2 separate regions of the Homo sapiens genome follow, and region 1 is linked to region 2. A link means that fine-mapping ties the variant in region 2 to the expression of a gene that starts in the linked region. Tissue or cell type: sun-exposed skin. Region 2 holds a variant in brackets; the other region holds the start of a gene. All regions are shown on one strand. Distances are from middle to middle.

Region 1 (5,115 bases), 43 kb after region 2:
TGGGTCTGGGTCCCACAACCTCGTGTCTGTTTTCCCGACAGCCCCAGATACCTGTTGCTATAAGGTGACCATCCACCAGCATGAAACCCTACATAATCCTTTGCTGTGTGGGCCCAGACCAAAGCACATGGCTGGTTTCTCACCAGATGTTAAGAGAGACTGGGGGGTTGCTTTTTTCCCTTTCTGTCACTGAGAACCATTTTTTGGTGCCTATCTCCATTTCTCCGTCTCTGTCACTCAATGTGTGAGGCTCTCTGGGTCTGTCTCAGTCTCTCTCAGCCTGTGTCTCTCTGGTCATCTGCCCCCCTCCTCACCTCTCTTTCCTTTTCCCTTTTCTTGAAACGCGCAAGGGAGTTCCCTGACCTCACCCCGGGCTCTCACTTCCAGCACGATGAGTCAGCACAGGGTTAGAAACTGAAAGATCAGGATCCAGCTGTAAAGGGAGAGACTGACAACCACAGAGCAACCTCCTTAGAAGGAAGGGGCCAGGCAGATTCACGCAGGGTAATAAAAGCAGCCTTGGGTGAGCTCTCGCCCTACCAACCCAGCCCTGCCAGCTAAGGGCTGATTGCTGTTGACATTCACAAGCACAGGAGCCAGACAGAGTGGCTCACGCCTGTAATACCAGCAGTTTGGGAGGCCAAGGTGGGAGGATCGCTTGACCCTAGGAGTTTGAAACCAACCCTGGGCAATATAGTGAGACCTCATCTCTAGAAGAAAATTAAAAAAAAAAAAAAGAAGAAGAAAGAGAAAAGGAAGCACAGGAGCCCACTTTGCATTAGCGTTTGTGCAGCGATCCCTGTCAATTTCACAACATACATATAGAGCTTTAAACTGGGAGAGCAGGTGTCATGGGATCCTTCCTTGTACTACACCGAGGAGGAAGGCAGGGGAGCATTCTTAGCCCACTTTACAGATAAAGGAATGAGGCTGGGTGCAATTAAGTGACTCAGTGCAGATATTTGCACCCCAAACCCCAGTTCAAGATTCCCCAGACCCCAAGGGATTGGGGCTCCTGTGGGGTCAGGTTAATGGACTAACTGTCCAAGGCTGAGGACCAGATCAGCCAGGAGGAAGAGCTCTTGCTGGTTGAACCCAGAACTCCCCTGGGGACTGTCCGGACATGAACCAAGAGCTGGGGTTCCTGGGCCCAGACCTGAGGTGTCTGATTGCATTTATGGAACACAGATGAGAGGCTTGGAGTTCTGGCCGGGCACGGTGGCTCACGCCTGTAATCTCAGCAATTTGGGAGGCCGACGCAAGAGTTTCACTTGAGCCCAGGAGTTCGAGACCAGCCTGGGCAACATGGCGAAACCCTGTCTCTACAAAAAAATACAAAAATTAGCCAAGCATGGTAGTATGCACATGCAGTCTCCAGCTACTTGGGAGGCTGAGGTGGGGGAATCACTTGAACCCACAAGGCAGAGGCTGCAGTGAGCCAAGATCGTGCCACTGCACTCCAGCCTGGGCAACAGAGGGAGAACCTCTCTCAACAAAAAACAAAACGAAAACAAACGAGGCTTCAAGTTCTAAAAACTAAGTTCAGCAAAGCTCTGGAAAAGGTGGAGCACCCTGAGTGGGTCACTCAGCCCCTCCAACCCTCGACTTCTTCACTTGACACCTGGACATGACTGCACCCACCTCTCAGGGTTTCCCCAGGGTCTCAAGAGACCATGGGGGTGAAAGTGTATTGCTCAACGTAATCCTAGGTGCAGAGGAGGAGAAAAGGCGCGTGGGCGGCCCAAAGTTCCCAAAGCCTGCCTTCTGCCTCCTGTCTGAAGGAGCAGCCCTGAGCCTCTAAGCTCAGACTCATAGACAGGTCCCAGGAGACTGTGCTCCAAGAGACCCCTTGGGGCACAGAGCTGGAGCAGGCAGGACCTCCGAAGGCTCACTTCCTGCTGCCTAGAATGTGTGTCCCCCACTCCTTTCCTGCCAGCTCCTTTTCTTCCTTCGAGTTTCAGCTCCCATGTGTCCTCTTGGTCTTCAGAAAGTCTTCCCCATGCCCAGCTATTTTTTAATTTTTTTTATTTTTTGTAGAGATGGGGTCTCCCTATGTTGCCCAGGCTGACCTTGAACTGTTGAGCTCAAGCGATCCTCCCCTCCCGCCTCAGCCTTCCAAAATGCTGAGATTTCAGGTGGGAGCACCTAACCATTTCTTTTGTCTGTCCCCCTTCCCTAGAACATAAGCTCTAGGATGGCAGGGATTAGACTTGTCTCATGCTTTGCACGTTCCCCAAAGGCTAACACTGGGCCTGACACAGAAAAGGCTCAGTATGCGCTGAATGAATGTGTGAACGAATGACTGAATTAACGGAGATCTTGTCTGGTGAGGAGTCAAACATATAATCAATCACAATAGGATGTGTTAAATGCTGAGGTCCAGCTAAGCCCAAACTGCTATGGGAGCTTAGAAGGGCAGGTAAGTTCCCTCATCCTATGCCCTAGCCACCCCACTAAGGACCCAGGAGGAAAGAGGCACAGGATAGAGGCGAGTTACTCACCACACATCTCAGTGAGGGCCCCCAGGACCCCCAGAAGGAAGAGGAAGGCCCCAAGGTGCCTCATGGCAGCAGCAGGTGGGTGAGCAGTGAGCAAGAATCGGGAAAGACTCCTGGGGCTGGCCCTGCTGAGGCTCTCCTGACCACAGCTGGTCACCGCTCCGAGAGACGCAGCTTCCTGTCACTGATTAATCCTCCATGCCTGCAATGCACGGCTAAGTCTGCAGAGGGGTGGGGCGGGGGAAGGTCTGTGGTGGCGGGGAACATAAGGCCAAAGAACAGAGGAAGGAAGGGCAGAGCAGCCCTCCTGGAGGTAGGGAACAAAGGGAGGAGGAGGGCTAGTGGGACCATGTGAGACATCTTGAGGCCATTCACGTTCCTGCTTAAAGAGCCCGGGACCAGCGCAGAGGGCCTGATGCCTGATCTGTCAAGTCTGTCCGACCGTGCCTGTCTGCTGTCCCCCCAGCTGTTCCAGTGGTGGATTGGCAGGACCGGGTGCCTACCCGGTACTCCTTACCAAAGGAGCCCCTGGTAGTGCCCACCTAGCCCAGGACAAGGAGTGGAACGGGAGCTGCAGCTGCAGTGGTCACGTGAGCAGCATTGCTGGAGTCAGCTGTTTTTCAGCACCGCCTCCCTCAGTTGTGGCGGGAGGGGATTGTGGGGGTGGGGGAGTTGGGCAGTTGGGGAGGGGGAGTTGGGCAGTTCGGTGGGGGGGGGGAGTTGGGCAATTGAGGGGAGGGTGGGTGCCGCTGGCCCCAGACCAGCCAGGCCACTTTTCTCAACCAATCCGAAAGGGCTGGGAGCCTCCTGGAGAGGACAAAACAAAACAAGTTAAAGAATGGGATTAAGTCCGGGCACGGTGGCTCACACCTGTAATCCTAGCACTTTGAAAGGCTGAGGCGGGCAGATCACTTGAGCTCAGGAGTTGGAGACCAGCCTGGGCAACATGGGGAAACACTGTCTCTACAAAAACACAAAAAACACATACAAAAAACCATAAATTAGCCTGGCGTGGTGGCAGACGTCTGTAATCCCAGCTACTTGGGGGGCTGAGGCAGGAGGATCGCTTGAACCCAAGAGGTGGAGGCTACAGTGAGCCAAGATTACACCACTGCACTCCAGCTTGGGTGACAAAGTGAGACCCTGTCTCAAAAATAAAATAAAATAAAAAGAATGAGATTGAATCGAGACACAAAGCTACCAGAAGCAGGGGTACTTGCCAGAACTCGGAAAGTAACCTCAAAAAAAATCTCTGCAAACAGGGAAGAGAACAAAAGATTCCTCATCTGCCCAGCCCCACAGGAGAATCAATGTATACGAGTTAACTAGTGGTGGCTGTGTGACTTTGGCCAGGTCACTTAACCTCTCGAGTTTAAAATAGTTCTTCCTGTGTGAGAAGAGAGGGTTAGGCAAGATCATCCTAACAGTTCCCTTTCAGCTCAATTTGTGAAGACACTATGACCTTAAAATATCTCCAATCATTTCCATGCACAATCTGCATTGCAATTATTTTATGGTAAATTGCCAAGGTTCACTCTTTTAAGACAATCTTTTTGAGCCTGATTTATCACAAACCAAGCCCTTGACATAAATAAATACAGCAACGTGTGTCTGTTTACGGAACTACTTGAAAATTTTAAATGATAGGTTGTCCAGTCAGAAAGGCTGGATGTGGCCACTAGGAGGAGCACCCCTGGAGGTTCTGAGGAAGGAGGGAGGCCAGTGGGGAGCCCAACTTCCGCAGAACCGCACGTTTGGACCTTCAGGGGAGTCATGGTGAAGTGTGTGCAATGGAGCCACCTTGGTCCTGGGTGGGACTGCCTTGGCTCCCCCAACCCTCTGCCTGTTTCCAGTAACAACTATTATGATTCCTATTTCCAGGAAGGCAGCCTGGAGGAGGTGGCCATGGAGGATAGCCTTCGTTATCGTCAGCCTCTGGTGAGAAGCAGCAGCATCCTTCCAGAGAGTCACTTCTGATCCCCAAGGTAGTTAGGGTGTCGAAGTAAAGGAGGGAGACACCCCCCTGCCTACCTACCTGGACTCAGTGCTAGAGGGTGGGGGAGTAGGAATAGGAAGACAGCATATTTCCCATACATATTAGAAATACTGGTGGCTCATGCCTGTAATCCCAGCACTTTGGGAAGCCAAGGCAGGAGGATTGCTTGAGCCCACAAGTTTGAGACCAGTCTAGGCAAGATGGTGAGACCCTGATTCTAAAAAACAAACAAAACCAAAAAATGCCAGGGATGGTGGTGTGTGCCTGTAAGTCTCAGCTAATCTAGAGGCTACAAGTGGGAGGATCACTTGAGCCCAGGAGGCTGAGGTTGCAGTGAGCTGAGATCAGACCACTGCACTCCAGTCTGGGCGACAGAAGGAGACCCTGTCCTAAAAATAAAGTAAAATTAAAAAAAGAAATAGAGTGACTGGTCAGGGGTAGTGCTATTTCAGGTCATGTGGTCAGGGAATGTGAAAAACAAAAATGATTACATCATTTAGATCAGGATTTCTATTTTTTTTATTTTTGAACTCCTGGGCTCAAGCGATCCTCCTGTCTCAGCCTCCCAAAGAGCTGGGATTACAGGCATGAACCACTGCACCTGGCCAGATCAAGATTTCT
Region 2 (5,167 bases):
ATGTGTTGAGGACACTCAAGGGGCCCTATGGAGAAGCCCACATGGCAAGGAACTGAGGCCTCCTGCCAACAGCCACGTGAATGCCCCATTTTGAATGTAAATCTGAAGCCGCCTTTGCAAAATTGTGACTGATACAGTGGAAGAGATCTAACTTAATTGACTCCATCTTGCTTCTAATCTCCAAGTTGTCTTTATTCATTCCTGGGCATAGGCTGAACTAACATTCGGAGAAACTTAGTTTATAGTTTATAGATTAAAATGAAGATGATAATGGCCCTTTCCCAAAGCAGACCTCTTTCTTGCCTAGGGACTAGATTGCCTATATAGGACTAACATTAGCCACAAGATTAGAAATTATGGCTTAGGAGTCATGCAGCTGGAGGCTGCAAGATTCTGACCTTCCCTAAACTGCTCCTAAGATCAGTGCTTGTGATATTTTGCAGCCCCTGCCCTTGATGGATCAGCTGGCACCACCCAGATTGATAAACTGGCTCGTCTGATCTTGTGGCCCCCACCCAGGAACTGACTGGGCACTAGAAAACAGCTTCAACATCCTGTGATTTCATCCCTGACCAATCAGCACTCCTGTCTCACTGGCTTCCCCCAACCCACCAAGTTGTCCTTAAAACTCTGCTCCCTGAATGGTCGGGGAGACTGATTTCAGTAATAGTAAAACTCTGGTCTCCTGCACACCAGGCTCTGTGTGAATTACTCTTTCTCTATTGCAGTTCCCCTGTCTTGATAAATCAGCTTTGTCTAGGCAGTGGGCAAAGTGAACCCACTGGGGGGCCACAAATCCTCCAGCCCCAGCCAAGCTTTCAGATGACTGAAGCTCAGACCAACATCTTGACTACAACTTAATGAGAAACTCAACCAGAACCAACCCACTAAGCCACTCCCGAATTCCTGATCCACTGAAACTGTGAGATACTACATGTTTGTTGCTCTAAGCCATAAGATTTTGAGATAAATTGTTACTCTAAATCAATACAACCGATACCCACTCTGCCCTAGCACTGTCCCCACTGTCATGGAGTTACCTAGACCACAACAACAGGTCTTCCCTAGTCTTCCTGCCTCCTGTCTTGAGCCCCTCCAATTTTTTCTCTACATAGGGTCCAGACTAAATTGAAGGTCTACTTATCAAGAAATGTTTATTTTGGCCAAGCGCAGTGGCTCACGCCTGTAATCCTAGCACTTTGGGAGGCCAAGGCAGGTGGATTTCTTGAGGTCAGGAGTTCAAGACCAGTCTGGGTAACATGGTGAAACCCCATCTCTACCAAAAAAAAAAAAAAAAAAAAAAAAAAAAAAAATATATATATATATATATATATATATATACACACACACACACACACACACACACACAAAAATTAGCCACGTGTGGTGGCATATGCCTGTAATCCCAGCTACTCAGGAGGCTGAGGCAGAAGAATCACTTGAACCTGGGAGGCAGAGGTTGCAGTGAGCCAAGATTGCACCACTGCATTCTAGCCTGGGCGACAGAGCGAAACTCTGTCTCAAAAAAAGAAAAGAAAAGAAATAAAAGATCATGGCTCAAAACCTCTCGTGGTCCTCCATTAAGTGGCCCTCAATTAAGTATTTTGTGCTACTTCCAGGAAGTTATTTAGTGCAGTGGTGGAGGATTTGACATCCCTGAGCTAATTTGAGGGCAGAGTAGCATGAAGGAGCTACTCCTTCCAGGGGGCCAGGCCAAACAAGGACTCACAATCCTTGTTTGCCCTGGCCCCCTGGAATGCCAATCCAAGGGCCACCAGGGGAGGGTAGAAGGGGCACCAGGCAGCTAGGCCTGAGACAGGTCTTTGTTTCGAAGTCCACAATGGCAGGATGCCCAGCACAGACCCAGCTTCCCAGGCTTCCTCCAAAGCAGGACAAGGGGGCTGGAGGCTTGGCATCCACGCTGCTATGCTCAGGCGGGAGCATGCCTGGGGGACTCTCAAATGTGCTCTGGCAGGCTGAGGAGGGGTGGGGCAGATAACACGAGAAGCCTTGAGGAGGAAGTGGAAGCATCTGTGATAAGACTGAGGCCTTCCTAGGCCTTTGTCCATTACAGCTCCAGAAGCTGGTGGGGGATTAGGTTCCACTGCTGCCCCCACTCAATGCACAGAGGCACAGGTGGAGAGGACCTTGTGCAAGGTCACAGAGCTCAGATGTACCAAAGCCAGGATTCGAGCACAAGTCAAACTCCAGAGCCCCTGTTCTTTTTTATTTTTGTTTATTTTTTGAGATGGAGTCTCATTCTGTCACACAAGCTGGAGT[G/A]CAGTGGCGTAATCTTGGCTCACAGCAATCTCTGCCTCCTAGGCTCAAGCGATTCTCCTGCCTCAGCCTTCCGAGTAGCTGGGATTACAGGTCCCCACCACCATGTCCGTCTAATTTTTTTTTTTTTTGAGACGAAGTCTTGCTCTTGTCCCCCAGGCTACAGTGCAATGGCATGATCTCGGCTCACTGCAACCTCCGCCTCCCAGGTTCAAGCGATTCTCCTGCCTCAGCCTCCCAAGTAGCTGGGATTACAGGCGGCTGCCACCATGCCCAGCTAATTTTTGTATTTTTAGTAGAGACGGGGTTTCACCATGTTGGCCAGGCTGGTCTTGAACTCCTGACTTCAGGTGATCCGCCCCCCTCGGACTCCCAAAGTACTGGGATTACAGGCGTGAGCCACCACATCCCACCAAACCCAAGCTTTTTGACTCCCAATCCAGCGCTCTCTGTGCCCACTGCTGGGAGGGGTGATAGGCATGGCTTTGGCTGTGGCCTTGGGGGAATCACCTCAATGTCTAATGGTCCTGAATCTGGTGACAAACCAGCTCCCAGGTCACACACAACCCCAATTACCTGTCCCCACAACCACCAGGGGCAGGCTTTAATCTGATGTGAGGCTCACTCATTAGCCAAGCATCCCACAAGGCCTAGAAATGAGGGTGGTACAGGGAGGTCCCTGCTATGGCAGTGGGGGCCAGTTGGATGGGAAAGGGTCCTGAGTCACCGAGGAGGATTTGACCACAGCCATCCATCCCTCCATCCTGCCTGGCAAAGCCTGAGAGTGGAGGCCAGAGGTACCCAAGCTGCTCAGGGACTGGGCTGGGCCAGCGGCATCTCTGAGTCATAGAGAGGGTGGGTGACAGGTGACTCAGCCCAGGCCGACTTCCCCTTCTGTAAGGCAGCCTGGGCGGAGGCTGGAACCAGGAAACCCCATACCGGTCCTCCTAGGCCTTCCCTACCCACTCCCACCCCGCCGTGGGCTGGCCCTTTACTCAGCCCTGTCTAGCACTTGCTGGCACTGTGGTCCCTTACGAATTCTGGTTACTGAATCTGAATGATTCCTCCCTGAATCTCAGTCTCCATAGACCACAGCCCCAGCCTGGTCTAGCTCCTAGTCCTCACACAAATGGGAGACATTTTGCAGATGGTTTCCAGAAAGGTTGGGTGAATACCCCAAGATAAAAGCAGAGCCAGTTGGTGCCATTACCTCCTTCCTCACTCCTGGCCCTGCCCAGCGCTCCTCATTCGAACCCTCTCCATAGGGATCATCAGTTCCATTTTGCAGATCTGGAAGCTGAGGCCTAGGGAAGGGAGGCTCCCAGTCAGGTGGGCAGAGCAGGATTAGGTTCCAGGTGTTCTCACTCCAACTGGGTCCTTATCATCTTTAACAGGTGATCTCCAGGAGAGGTAGCTGGCTGGGGAGAGTTAGGTGTTACAAGAGCCAAGGAAAGGCTCAGAGGTAAATAACAAAGCTGACGCCAGCTGGCGAGTCAGGGAGCTCTGGGGGTTGGGACTCCTGTCTTAGGTTCCCTACATGGGAGCCCTGCTCCCCTATACCCCTGCAAGCCTCCTGAGCACAGTCCCTTGTCAAGACCCTCATCAGCCCTTTTTTTTTTTGAAAGAGATAGGGTCTTGCTCTGTCACCCAGGCTGGAGTGCAGTGGCATGATCATAGTGCACTGCAGCCTCCAACTCCTGGCCTCAAGCGATTGGATTTTTCTTTTCTTTTTTGAGATGGAGTTTCGGTCTTGTTGGCCAAGCTGGAGTGCAGTGGCACAATCTCGGCTCACTGCAACCTCTGCCTCCTGGGTTCCAGCGATTCTCCTGCCTCAGGTGCACGCCAGCAGGCCTGGCTAATTTTTTTGTATTTTTAATAGAGACGGTGTTTCAGCATGTTGGCCAGGCTGGTCTCGAACCCCTGACATCAGGTGATCCGCCCGCCTTGGCCTCCCAAAGTACTGGGATTACAGGTGTGAGCCACCGCGCCCGGCCTGGATTTCTCTTTTTAAAAAGAGTTGCATGTTTGGGTTTTCTCCTCCAGGCAGGGGTTTAAGCTGTGGGAAGGGAGGAGGTTGTTGTAGGAAGCGGGGACTGGACGGAGGGAACAGCATGTACAAAGGTTTCAGTGAGCAGGCCTGGTATCACGGGGAACTGAAAGAAGTCGGTGAGGCTGGAAGGCAGAGCCCAGGGGAAGGGAGACAAGCTGGGTGAGGCTGCAGGTGCCACGTCCTGAGTGAGTTGGGGTCTGGGGTAGGAAATTCTGACTTTGTCCCAAGAGCAGTGAGGAACATCAGAATGTGCACGTTTTAGTGAGATCCCTCTGGGTGAAGGGGTCTGTGTGTAAGATGGAGTAGAGGGGCCAGGCAGAGCAAGGGGGAGGCCACTGCCACTGTCCAGAAGATGGGCAATGGTAGCCCAGCCAGTGGAGGGATTTGAGGGAATGGCACTGGGCTCGGGGTGGGGGGCCAGACAGACTGCGATGGGTAAGGGAGGATGTCCTAGTTTCTGTGTGGGAAGCCTACCACTCTCCCTATATCCCCTCTGTACAACCAACAAATGACACAGGCATACAAGCAAAAATAGTGTATTTGAGGATGGATGACCCAAAATTGGGGGGCCCAGGGGTGAGGCCACAGCAGCTGCCTGGAGTTGGCACAGACTACCCCAACTCCCTAGGGGAGCCCAGCAGCATAGAAGCCCCCCTGCTGGGCCTCCTAGCTGCCTCCCCCCCAGGAGGAAGGATTGTGTAACCGCCAAGAATCATCATCATCGTCATTGTAACAAGTTGAGGTCTTCAAAGTTTGCCCAGCAATTTTTGGCATCGTAATTGATATTAATCATAATAATGACTCTGACAAGCACAGGGACTGTGCCAGGCTTGGACCCAC

What was found. PIP is the estimated chance that this variant, and not a neighbour inherited with it, causes the effect.
Region 1: TCN2 starts here. The variant in region 2 is fine-mapped to the expression of TCN2 in sun-exposed skin (GTEx, PIP 0.99).

Annotation. Positions count from the first base shown.
Region 1 is chr22:30,604,782-30,609,896 of GRCh38, reverse strand. It overlaps TCN2 (transcobalamin 2), which reads right to left and starts at 2,723. Exons shown (of 9, transcript NM_000355.4): 1 at 2,502-2,723. The coding sequence starts at 2,565. It also overlaps a transcript of PES1 not described here. RefSeq lists enhancers at 227-506, 281-575, 2,561-2,855, 2,358-2,937.
Region 2 is chr22:30,647,574-30,652,740 of GRCh38, reverse strand. It overlaps SLC35E4 (solute carrier family 35 member E4), which reads right to left. Exons shown (of 2, transcript NM_001001479.4): 2 at 4,848-5,167. It also overlaps a transcript of DUSP18 not described here. Among named protein-coding and RNA genes, the nearest start is that of SLC35E4, 14 kb to the right of the region's middle. The variant G/A (reference allele first, on the strand shown) is at 2,281.